2 linked regions of the Homo sapiens genome follow. The protein of the gene in region 1 purifies or fractionates together with the protein of each later gene. This does not show direct contact. Each region holds a gene or a part of one and is shown on either strand. Other genes may lie near its edges.

The links. The genes of interacting proteins can lie anywhere in the genome.
Region 2: the proteins of GBP3 (region 1) and DECR2 purify together in Homo sapiens (affinity purification with mass spectrometry; one large-scale study listed by BioGRID and IntAct). This does not show direct contact.

The regions. Positions count from the first base shown.
Region 1 is NC_000001.11:89,012,027-89,017,330, forward strand, and holds part of GBP3 (guanylate-binding protein 3), read right to left. Parts: intron 3,389-5,304; coding exon 3,261-3,388; intron 2,631-3,260; coding exon 2,521-2,630; exon of another isoform or gene 2,405-2,520; coding exon of another isoform or gene 2,379-2,404; intron 2,254-2,378; coding exon 2,057-2,253; intron 1,402-2,056; coding exon 1,159-1,401; intron 2-1,158; coding exon 1-1.
Region 2 is NC_000016.10:403,983-408,384, forward strand, and holds part of DECR2 (peroxisomal 2,4-dienoyl-CoA reductase [(3E)-enoyl-CoA-producing]), read left to right. Parts: intron 1-973; coding exon 974-1,042; intron 1,043-2,363; coding exon 2,364-2,415; intron 2,416-3,442; coding exon 3,443-3,578; intron 3,579-4,402.

The DNA of each region.
Region 1 (5,304 bases):
CCTACATACAAAGAAGAAATGATAATGTTTCTTGTACTAAAGAAAACTCTCTATTCTGTGTAATTCTGAACATGTCAATTTCCACCTATTTTCCTCACAGCATCAAGGTCCTCAGAATCATCTGGAAGCTTGCTGGAAATGCCTATTGTTAGCCTCTGTCCCAGATCTACTGAATTAGAGTTTTTTCTTTGGGTAAGATCCCTAGATGATATGTATGCATATCAACATTTGAGAATCCTTGTTCTAGATGACCTAGTCCTGTGTTAGTTGAATGTTTGCATCCATTTCAACCCCAAGCACCATCAGGAAAGGAACCCATAGCTATTCCATATATGACTGTATCCTCAGCTTATTCACAGTAGCATTTGATCAATACTTATGGAACAAATGATACTCTCCTAATCAAAAGGAGCCCTCCGTTTGGTTTATTTTAGCACAGCATTGTCCAAGAAAACTTTCTGTAATGGTGGAAGTGTTCTGTATGTGCTGTTCAGTATGCTAGCCACTAAGTACATGTAAATATAAGCCTTTGAAATATAGCCATGTGAATTGACCTTTAATTTTTCCTTATTTTAATTAATTTACATTTACATTTAGATAGCCCCACTTGTCTAGTGGCTACTGTACTGTACAGTGCAGGCCCAGTTTACTGTGGCAATTTTAAGTAATAAAACTTTTTTCCTTTGCTTTTCCTATCTTTTCCCACCAAGAAGGTTGACCAACAAAATCTATTAGAAATGTTGGTGTCATCTAGAATTTAGCACAAATGTAGCAGTAGATTGGGATTTTTCAATGCTGATACTAGGTGGAGTTATTCTATGCTCCTTTCATATTTTTTTTTTCCTCTGTCACCCAGGCTGGAGTGCAGTGGCGTGATCTCGTCTCACTGCAACCTCTGCCTCCCAGGTTCAAGCAATTCTCCTGCCTCAGCCTCCCAAGTAGCTGGGATTACAGGTATGTGCCACCATGCCTCATTTATTTTTGTATTTTTAGTAGAGACATGGTTTTGCCATGTGGGCTAGGTTGGTCTCAAACTCCTGGCCTCAAGTGATCTGCCCTCCTCGGCCTCCCAAAGTGCTGGGATTACAGGCATGAACCATCATGCCTGGCCATCCTTTAGTTTTAACAATGAGTGGAAGTACTACGAAGGGGACTTACGAGGCCCATTGACCTTGATGCCTCCTGAAAGAGTTTTAGTTTTGGAATTGCTAAAGATGTAGGAACAGAAGTCTGCTACTTGTTGCACAAATTCAGGGTCCAGCTCTTCATCTTGTAGTTTCTCAAGCTGGGCAAGCTTCCTGCGGTGAATGGGCAGATCGAAGACAAAACATTTTTTCTTTGGGAAGAACTTCCGGATACAGAGTCGGGGCAGATTAAAATTTTTATCTTTTTGACTGGTACCTAGAGAAACATAATAAAGAAATTTGCCTAATATAAGTGTTTCCGTAAAGCGTCAAATAGTAAATATTTTAGGCTCTGCAGGCTAGGTGGTCTCTTTTCCAAGTACTCAACTTTGTTATTGGAGCATGACAACAGCTTTAGACAATATGTAAATGAATGGGCATAGCATTCTTCCCAAAAAACCTCACTTAGAAAGACAGCTGGCAGGCAGAATTGGCCATCATTTGTCTTAGGCTGCAGTTCGCCAGCATTTGGACTAGTACACTGTTCATGTTCAATCTATGTTCTTTAAGTAAATATCCATTGTCCTTCATATTTTACAGGTAAATACAGAATCACGAACCCTACATAAGGAGATAAAATTTACCTAAATTGTAAAATAGGAAAAAATGAAAGAAAAAGAAACTTATTTTAGAACACAGGAGAATATAATTTAAAATCTAATCTATTAATTTAGATATTCAGCAAGCATTCATTCCTTTTTTCCTTTTTTCAAAAAACCTTTTCTATTGCTAATAGCAAGCATTAATTCTTAAGAATAGCAAGCTAGAGATATAGAAAACTGTAAATGTGAGAAAACTATCAATAGTAAACTAAAAAATGATAATTTCTAGTGTTTTGTCGTCCTCATTTATCAATGGTACGTCTCTGTTACCTTGCGTTAGCTTCAGGGAATACTCCAGGTACTCATCTGGTGTGAGGGGTTGTCCATCTGCTTCCAAGTCCAGGGAGAAATCTCTCAGTGTCCACACAAAATCTGGGAAGAAGCTCACAAAGTCAGCTGAATCCTCATTCTCATTCTCATCAGGTGAGGATTTTGATCGGATTCGATGTGTCAGCTCTGTCACATAGCTGAGTAGCTAACTAAGGAAATGTGACAAAATGAACAGGAACCTCATCCCATATTAGTTCAACACATTCCCAAACCTTCCATTTTCCTTTGATCCTAACCTAAGTGTCAATTCTAAAGTGGATACATGGGATCTCTCCTCTGTACTTGCATTATTTTTTGTTTTCTCCTTTTGAGCTTGATTCATCAGGATTCACAGTCAGGCAGCTGGTTTATGAATACAGGTGTCCCCTCTGACCTTGGTGCTGTTCTGGGTCACAAAAGGATACTACAGTTGGTCCATAGCCTGCTGGTTGATGGTTCCCATGCTATTGTACACGAGAGTGCTGCTCAGGAGGACGGCCAGGGTGAAGATCCAGGAGTCATTCTGGTTGTCACCCTGGAAGTCAAGACACACTGGAGTCAGGAGCAAGTTTCATCATCACAGCACTTTCCAGAGTGACAGTAGTAAAAGTATATCATAAGTTAGAGTTTTCTTTTAAGACTAATGACCTATGAAAAGAACCCAAATCCAAACAAAATGATTGTTACTCAGCTGTGGAATGTGTATAGTTTTTTGATTAGTGTTTTTTGGTATACACTGATTCTCACCAGGTCCTCTTATGATCATTGGCAGACAATTGCAAAATAAACATTCAAGGTTAATGGGCATTCTAAGGCCTGAAGTATAATTTAAACTTGCTCAGGCTACTGAATTATAAGTTCTTTGCAGGATAGGACTCGTGACATTGGATTTATTTGTGCTCCCTTTATGCATCTGTGTTAACTCACATAGCTTACAACCTATGGTTAGTAGAATACTGTGTGTTGACCACCATGCTTTGCTAGGATTCTGTCTTATGAATATTTTTCTCACTTCTGGTTGCTAAGTTTGGCCTTATGACATGTACACAGAAATGAAAAGACAAATTATAGTTAAATGCAAACTCTTCTTTAAGAAAAAACTAAATGGTGCTTAAAATATTCAGAGATGAGGGGCTTATTTCAAAATTGAATCTTTGACCCTTACCTTCTTTACATCTCCCAGGCCCTCAGTGTCAAGCAGGACTAAGGTGTGTTCTGGCTTTTTGGGGTGAGGCACACACCACATCCAGATTCCTTTGGTGTGAGATTTCACTGTGGAGCCCAGAGAGAAGCCTGTAAAGGAGAGATGGGATAAGAAGGGCTGGAGGTTTAATAGCAGGTACTTCAGGAAATTGAGGCAAATGTAGCATCATGATTAATGTTAAGAGAGATAACCAAAACCACAATCAGTACTTACGTTACTTATAATCAGAAAAATAGAAAAATTTGAATATCCAGTACATAAATGGATTCAGGACCTTTCATGATAAAAACAATCAACAAATTAGAAATAGAAAAAAACTGAGGAAGGAGAATCACTTGAACCCAGGAGGCGGAGGTTGCAGTGAGCTGAGATAGCACCACTGCACTCCAGCCTGGGCAACAGAGCGAGACTCTTGTCTTAAAAAAAAAAAAAAAAAAAAAAGAGGGATAGAGAAACAGAAAAAAATTACCTCAACAAAACAAAGGACATACATGAAAAATCCACAGCCTGCTTCATACTCAATGGTGAAGACTGAAAATTTTCCTCTAATATGGGAACAAGGAAAAGATGCCCACTTTTGCCACTTCTTTTCCACAAAGTACTAGAGGTCCTATCCAGAGTAATTAGGTGAGAAAAGGAAACAGAAAGCATCTAAATTGGAAAGGAAGATGTAAAATAATCTCTATTTACTGATGATATGATCTCTGCAGAAAACTTTAAATATTACACAGAACTGTTAGAACTAATAAAAAGAATTCAGCAAAGTTGCAGCATACAAAATTAACATGCAGAAATCTGTTGCATTTGTATACAGTAGCAAAGAACAATCCACAAAGGAAATTTTGAAAGCAATCCCATTTAACATACCACCAAAAGGGCAAACTACTTCAGAATAAAATTGGCCAGGCACAGTGGCTCACGCCTGTAATCCCAGCACTTTGGGAGGCTGAGGCAGGTGATCACAAGGTCAGCAGATCGAGACCATCTGGCCAATGTGGTGAAACCCTGTCTCTACTAAAACTACACACACACACACACACAAAATTAGCTGGGTGTGGTGGCGGGCACCTGTAATCCCAGCTACTCGGGTGGCTGAGGCATGAGAATTGCCTGAACCCAGGAGGTGGAGGTTGCAGTGAGCCGAGATTGTGCCACTGCACTCCAGGCTGGTGACACAGCAAGACTGTCACAAAACAAACAAACAAAAAACCCAAAAAACGTAACCATAGAGGGGAATGACTTGTATAATGAAAATTACAAAATTTTTTTTTTTTGGAGACAGAGTCTCACGGTGTCATCCAGGCTAGACTGTGATCACTGATCACTGTAGTCTTGACCTCCCAGGCTCAAGCAATACTCCCACCTCAGCCTCCCGAGTAGCTGAGACTACAGGCACGTGACACCAGGCCTGTCTAATTTTTGTATATTTTGTAGAGATGGGGTTTCCCCGTGTTGTCCAAGTTGGTCTCAAATTCTTGAGCTCAAGTGATCTGCTGGCCTCAGCTTCTCAAAGTGCTGGGATTACAGGTGTGAACCACTGTGCTTGGCCAAACATTCTTAAAAGAAATTAAGGAAGAGTTAAATAATTAGAAAGACATCCTGTAAAAGTGACATACAGATTCAATGCAATCCCTATCAAAATTCCAATGATTTTTTTATAAATAAAAACATCAAAAATATCCACACTAACTTTCATATGAAATTTCAAGAGATCCCCAAATTGTCAAAATAATCTCAAAAAGGAAGAAGAAAGTCAGAGGCTCACAGTTTCTGAGTTCTGAAACTTACTACAAAATCAGGATAATCAACACAGTTTGGTATTGGCTTAAACACTGTTATCAACTAATGGAGTAAAGTAGAGAGCCTAGAAATGAACTCTCACATCTATAGTCAAAAAATTTTCAACATGGATGCTAAAATCATTCAACGCAGAAAGAGGAGTCTCTACAACAAATGACATTGGGAAAACTGGATATTCACATGCTCACATGCCAAAAAAAAAAAA
Region 2 (4,402 bases), on another chromosome or scaffold:
CTAACACGGTGAAACCTCATCTCTACTAAAAATACAAAAAATTAGCTGGGCGTGGTGGCAGGTGCCTGTAGTCCCAGCTACTCTGGAGGCTGAGGCAGGAGAATGGTGTGAACCTGGGAGGAGGAGTTTGCAGTGAGCCTAGATCATGCCACTGCACTCCAGCCTGGGCGACAGAGCGAGACTCCATCTCAAAAAAAATAAAAAATAAATAAATAAATTAAATAAAATACTATAATTTTATGAATTTTCATTTTATTTATTTATTTATTTTTTAAGACCATGTTTCGCTCTTGTTGCCCAGGCTGGAGTGCAATGGCGCAATTTTGGCTCACCACAACCTCCGCCTCCTGGGTTCAAGTGATTCTCCTGCCTCAGCCTCCCAAGTAGCTGGGATTACAGGCATGCACCACCACACCCGGCTAATTTTTTATATTTTTAGTAGAGACGGGGTTTCTCCATGTTGGTCAGGCTGGTCTCGAACTCCCGACCTCAGGTGATCCGCCCGCCTTGGCCTCCTAAAGTGCTGTGATTAGAGGTGTGAGCCAAGGCACCTGGCCGAATTTTCATTTTAAATCATTGCCGTATAGCAATATGGGAGGTGTATTTTAACAGGGCTCTTTTATTTTTTATTTATTTTTATTTTATTTTATTTATACATATTTTTTGAGACGGAGTCTTGCTCTTTTGCCCAGGCTGGAGTGCAGTGGTGCGATCTCGGCTCACTGCAACATCTGCCTCCCGGGTTCAAGCTATTCTCCTGCCTCAGCCTCCCAAGTAGCTAGGACTACAGGCACCCACCACCACGCCCAGCTGATTTTTGTATTTTTAGTAGAGACGAGGTTTTACCATATTGTCCAAGCTGGTCTCGATCTCCTGACCTTGTGGCCCACCCACCTTGGCCTTCCAAAGTGCTGGGAGCCACCGGCCCGGCCCAATAGGGCTCTTTTAAAAGAGCCTCCTTTTTTATTCTCAGGGACAAAGTGGCCTTCATCACAGGAGGCGGCTCTGGGATTGGGTTCCGGATTGCTGAGATTTTCATGCGGTGAGACTGCTCTGTGTCCCTTCCCTGCTCCTCGCTTCTCCCTGCCCGGGCCCTGCTGGATGCCCGACCCCTGGAAAGATGTTGGTGGGAGGTAGATGTCCCCTGCTCACCTACCCGACAGGATCCAGGTGCCTGCCAGAGGGACTGGGGAGCGGTCGAGGATTGCCCTGGGGGGAGTCAGGACTTCAAGGCCCCTACAGGTCAGTGGAGATTGTGTGGCTCTGGTCTGGGGCCTGCTGGGACCTCGAGAGTCAGGGCTGTGTCGGGCCCCAGTGCTGGCGCCCTGCAGAGCACATTTTCTCCTGGGACACAATTCTGTGGCTTCAGGCCAGGGTCAGCAACTTATCCCACCTGACAGTGGCTAGAGTTAGGCTGGGGTGGGGGAAAGGGACCCTTCCTCAGTTCCCCTGAGGCCCCTGCTTTTCAGACCAAAAAGGTGAGTCCCACAGGAAGAGATATGGCCTTTCCACTGGTGGCTTTGTGCTCAGGGCATCTGAGGACCAGATGGGACATTGCAGCTCCAGTGGGACCTGCCTAGCAGGGGTAGCTACCTTTATGGTTATTGTGGGCAAGCAACCCCCGAACCAGAAGAGCCGAGAAACCAAAGAACAAGGCAGACAGATCCCGTTTGTCTGTGTCAGGTGATTTTACCAGGGAATTTGTGGGCAGAAGCGTAGTCTTGGGTGGCTGTGAGACGGGCGTCTCCATGCTGTTACCCCCAGGCCCAGGGCTTCTATACCACAGGGAAAGGGGTCCTGCTTCAGAGGGAGTGTGTAGGAATTTGTTTAGGATAACATCAAGGTGGTTTTGACCTAAAGGCAGGACTTCTTTGTGCTCTTTCGCAAGAACAGTAGATAAGCTGGAAATCCTAGCGGCATTCCTGGAACCAGGGTTCATAGAGGCCAACGTGGTGGATTCGCATCCACGTGGTCAGGAAGGGGAGCAGGGAGCACCCCGCTTCAGAACAGTCCTCCACGCCAGCCCCACAGGGAGAAGGGGGTGGAGAATGTGGGCCCAGCAGGCCCCAGGCAGATGTGTGGGCTGGGCGTCTGTGGCTCACAGCTGTCTCTGTACCTGGTGTTTGGGGCAGGACCCGCAGGCCTGTGCGGTGGGATGTCCCATGCCAGAAACCCCGGGGTGGGCACCACCTGAGGTCCCTCCAGAGTACCTCAGTCCTGTTCACGCCCCTGTGCCCTCTGCCAGCTGGGCCTTCAGCCTGGACTGGTACTTCCGCCTGAGAGACTCCTGCTCAGGAGCTGGGCAGATGCCCCGGGAGTGCCCCTCGCCCACACTGCCCTCACACCTGCTTCTGGTTTTGCAGGCACGGCTGCCATACGGTGATTGCCAGTAGGAGCCTGCCGCGAGTGCTGACGGTGAGAGGGCCTCTCCCATGGTCCCCTGTTCGGGTGGCTGTGGGGGGGCTGGGGCTGGGCCTGGGCCAGGAGAGTCCAGAGGCTATGGGGATGTTGGCACCAAAACTTTTTTTTTCTGAGACGGGAGTCTCGCTCTGTCACCCAGGCTGAAGTGTGGTGGTGCGATCTCGGCTCACTGCAGCCTCCACCTCCCAGGATCAAGCGATTCTCCTGCCTCAGCCTCCGGAGTAGCTGGGACTACAGGTGCCCGCCACCACGCCTGGCTAATTTTTGCATTTTTTTGGTAGAGATGGGTTTTCACCACGTTGACCAGGCTGGTCTCGAATTCCTGACCTCAGGTGATCCGCCCACCTCAGCCTCCCAAAGTGCCAGGATTACAGGTGTGAACCACTGTGCCCGGCCGGCACCTCAGCCTCCCAAAGTGCCAGGATTACAGGTGTGAATCACTGTGCCCGGCCGGCACCTCAGCCTCCCAAAGTGCCAGGATTACAGGTGTGAACCACTGTGCCCAGCCGGCACCAAAACTTGCACCTATCCTAAATATGGAGCTTCAGTGTAAGTGGCCTCCCAGAGACATCTTTGACTTTTTAAAAAATCTAGTTATTGGGTTCTGGGAGGGACCTTCCTGTTTGGGGGTAATGTGGCCCCAAGAAAGACCTCTGGGCTCACCTGGGTTATTTAGGTGGTCCGTGCGTCCCACCTACTGGAGCCCTCGACCTGGGAGGAGAGTCTCACCTGTGCCACCTCTGGTCTGCAGCAGGGGCAGGACATGGGTGACAGTGGCCTGGAGGGCGACGCAGAGGGAGGATTCTAGGACAGGTGGCAGGTGGGGGGAGAGCGTGGCAGGTTCCCACAAACATCCACTGGGGTCGTGGGCACTTGCAGGCTGTGCTTCCCCAGAGTGGGGTCCAGCAGCAAACCCAGGGTCCCCGAGGAACCCGGAAGCATCGTCCTCTGCAGATTCCAAAGGCCTTTTCTCCAGGCCGAGGCTGCAGGGCTGCTGTCTGCCTCTTTACCTGGCTTCTAGGCCGCCAGGAAGCTGGCTGGGGCCACCGGCCGGCGCTGCCTCCCTCTCTCTATGGACGTCCGAGCGCCCCCAGCTGTCATGGCCGCCGTGGACCAGGCTCTGAAGGAGTTTGGCAGAATCGACATTCTCATTAACTGTGAGTCGGTGCTGAGTGAGGTTGGTGGCTTCTCACAGGTTGGTGGTACCATTTGGAGGCCCTAGAACTCTGGTCATGGGGTGGGGACCATGCCAGGGAACCTAGCTGCCTGTGCTGGGGTGGGCTGCACCCCATCCAGGTACCTGAGGCCAAGACTCAGGCTCCGGCCCCCTGTCTCCGGCCCCATCTCCGGCCCCCTGTCTCCGGGCCCCTGTCTCCGGGCCTCTGTCTCCGGGCTCTGTCTCCGGGCCTCTGTCTTCGGCCGCATCTCCGGCCCCCTGTCTCTGGGCCTCTGTCTCCGGGCGTCTCTCTCCGGCCCCATCTCCGGCCCCCTGTCTCCGGGCCTCTGTCTCCGGCCCCATCTCCGGCCCCCTGTCTCCGGGCCCCTGTCTCCAGGCCTCTGTCTCCGGCCCCCTGTCTCCGGGCCCCTGTCTCCGGGCCTCTGTCTCCGGCCCCCTGTCTCCGGGCCCCTGTCTCCGGGCCTCTGTCTCCGGCCCTCTGTCTCCGGGCCCCTGTCTCCGGGCCCCTGTCTCCAGCCCCCTGTCTCCGGACCTCTGTCTCCGGGCCCCTGTCTCCGGGCCTCTGTCTCCGGCCCCCTGTCTCCGGGCCTCTGTCTCCGGGCCTCTGTCTCCGGCCCCCTGTCTCCGGCCCCCTGTCTCCGGGCCTCTGTCTCCGGGCCTCTGTCTCCGGCCCCCTGTCTCTGGGCCTCTGTCTCCGGCCCCATCTCCGGCCCCCTGTCTCCGGGCTTCTGTCTCTGGCCCTCTGTCTCTGGCCCTCTGTCTCCAGGCCTTTGTGTCCCGCCTTCTGTCTCTGGCCCTCTGTCT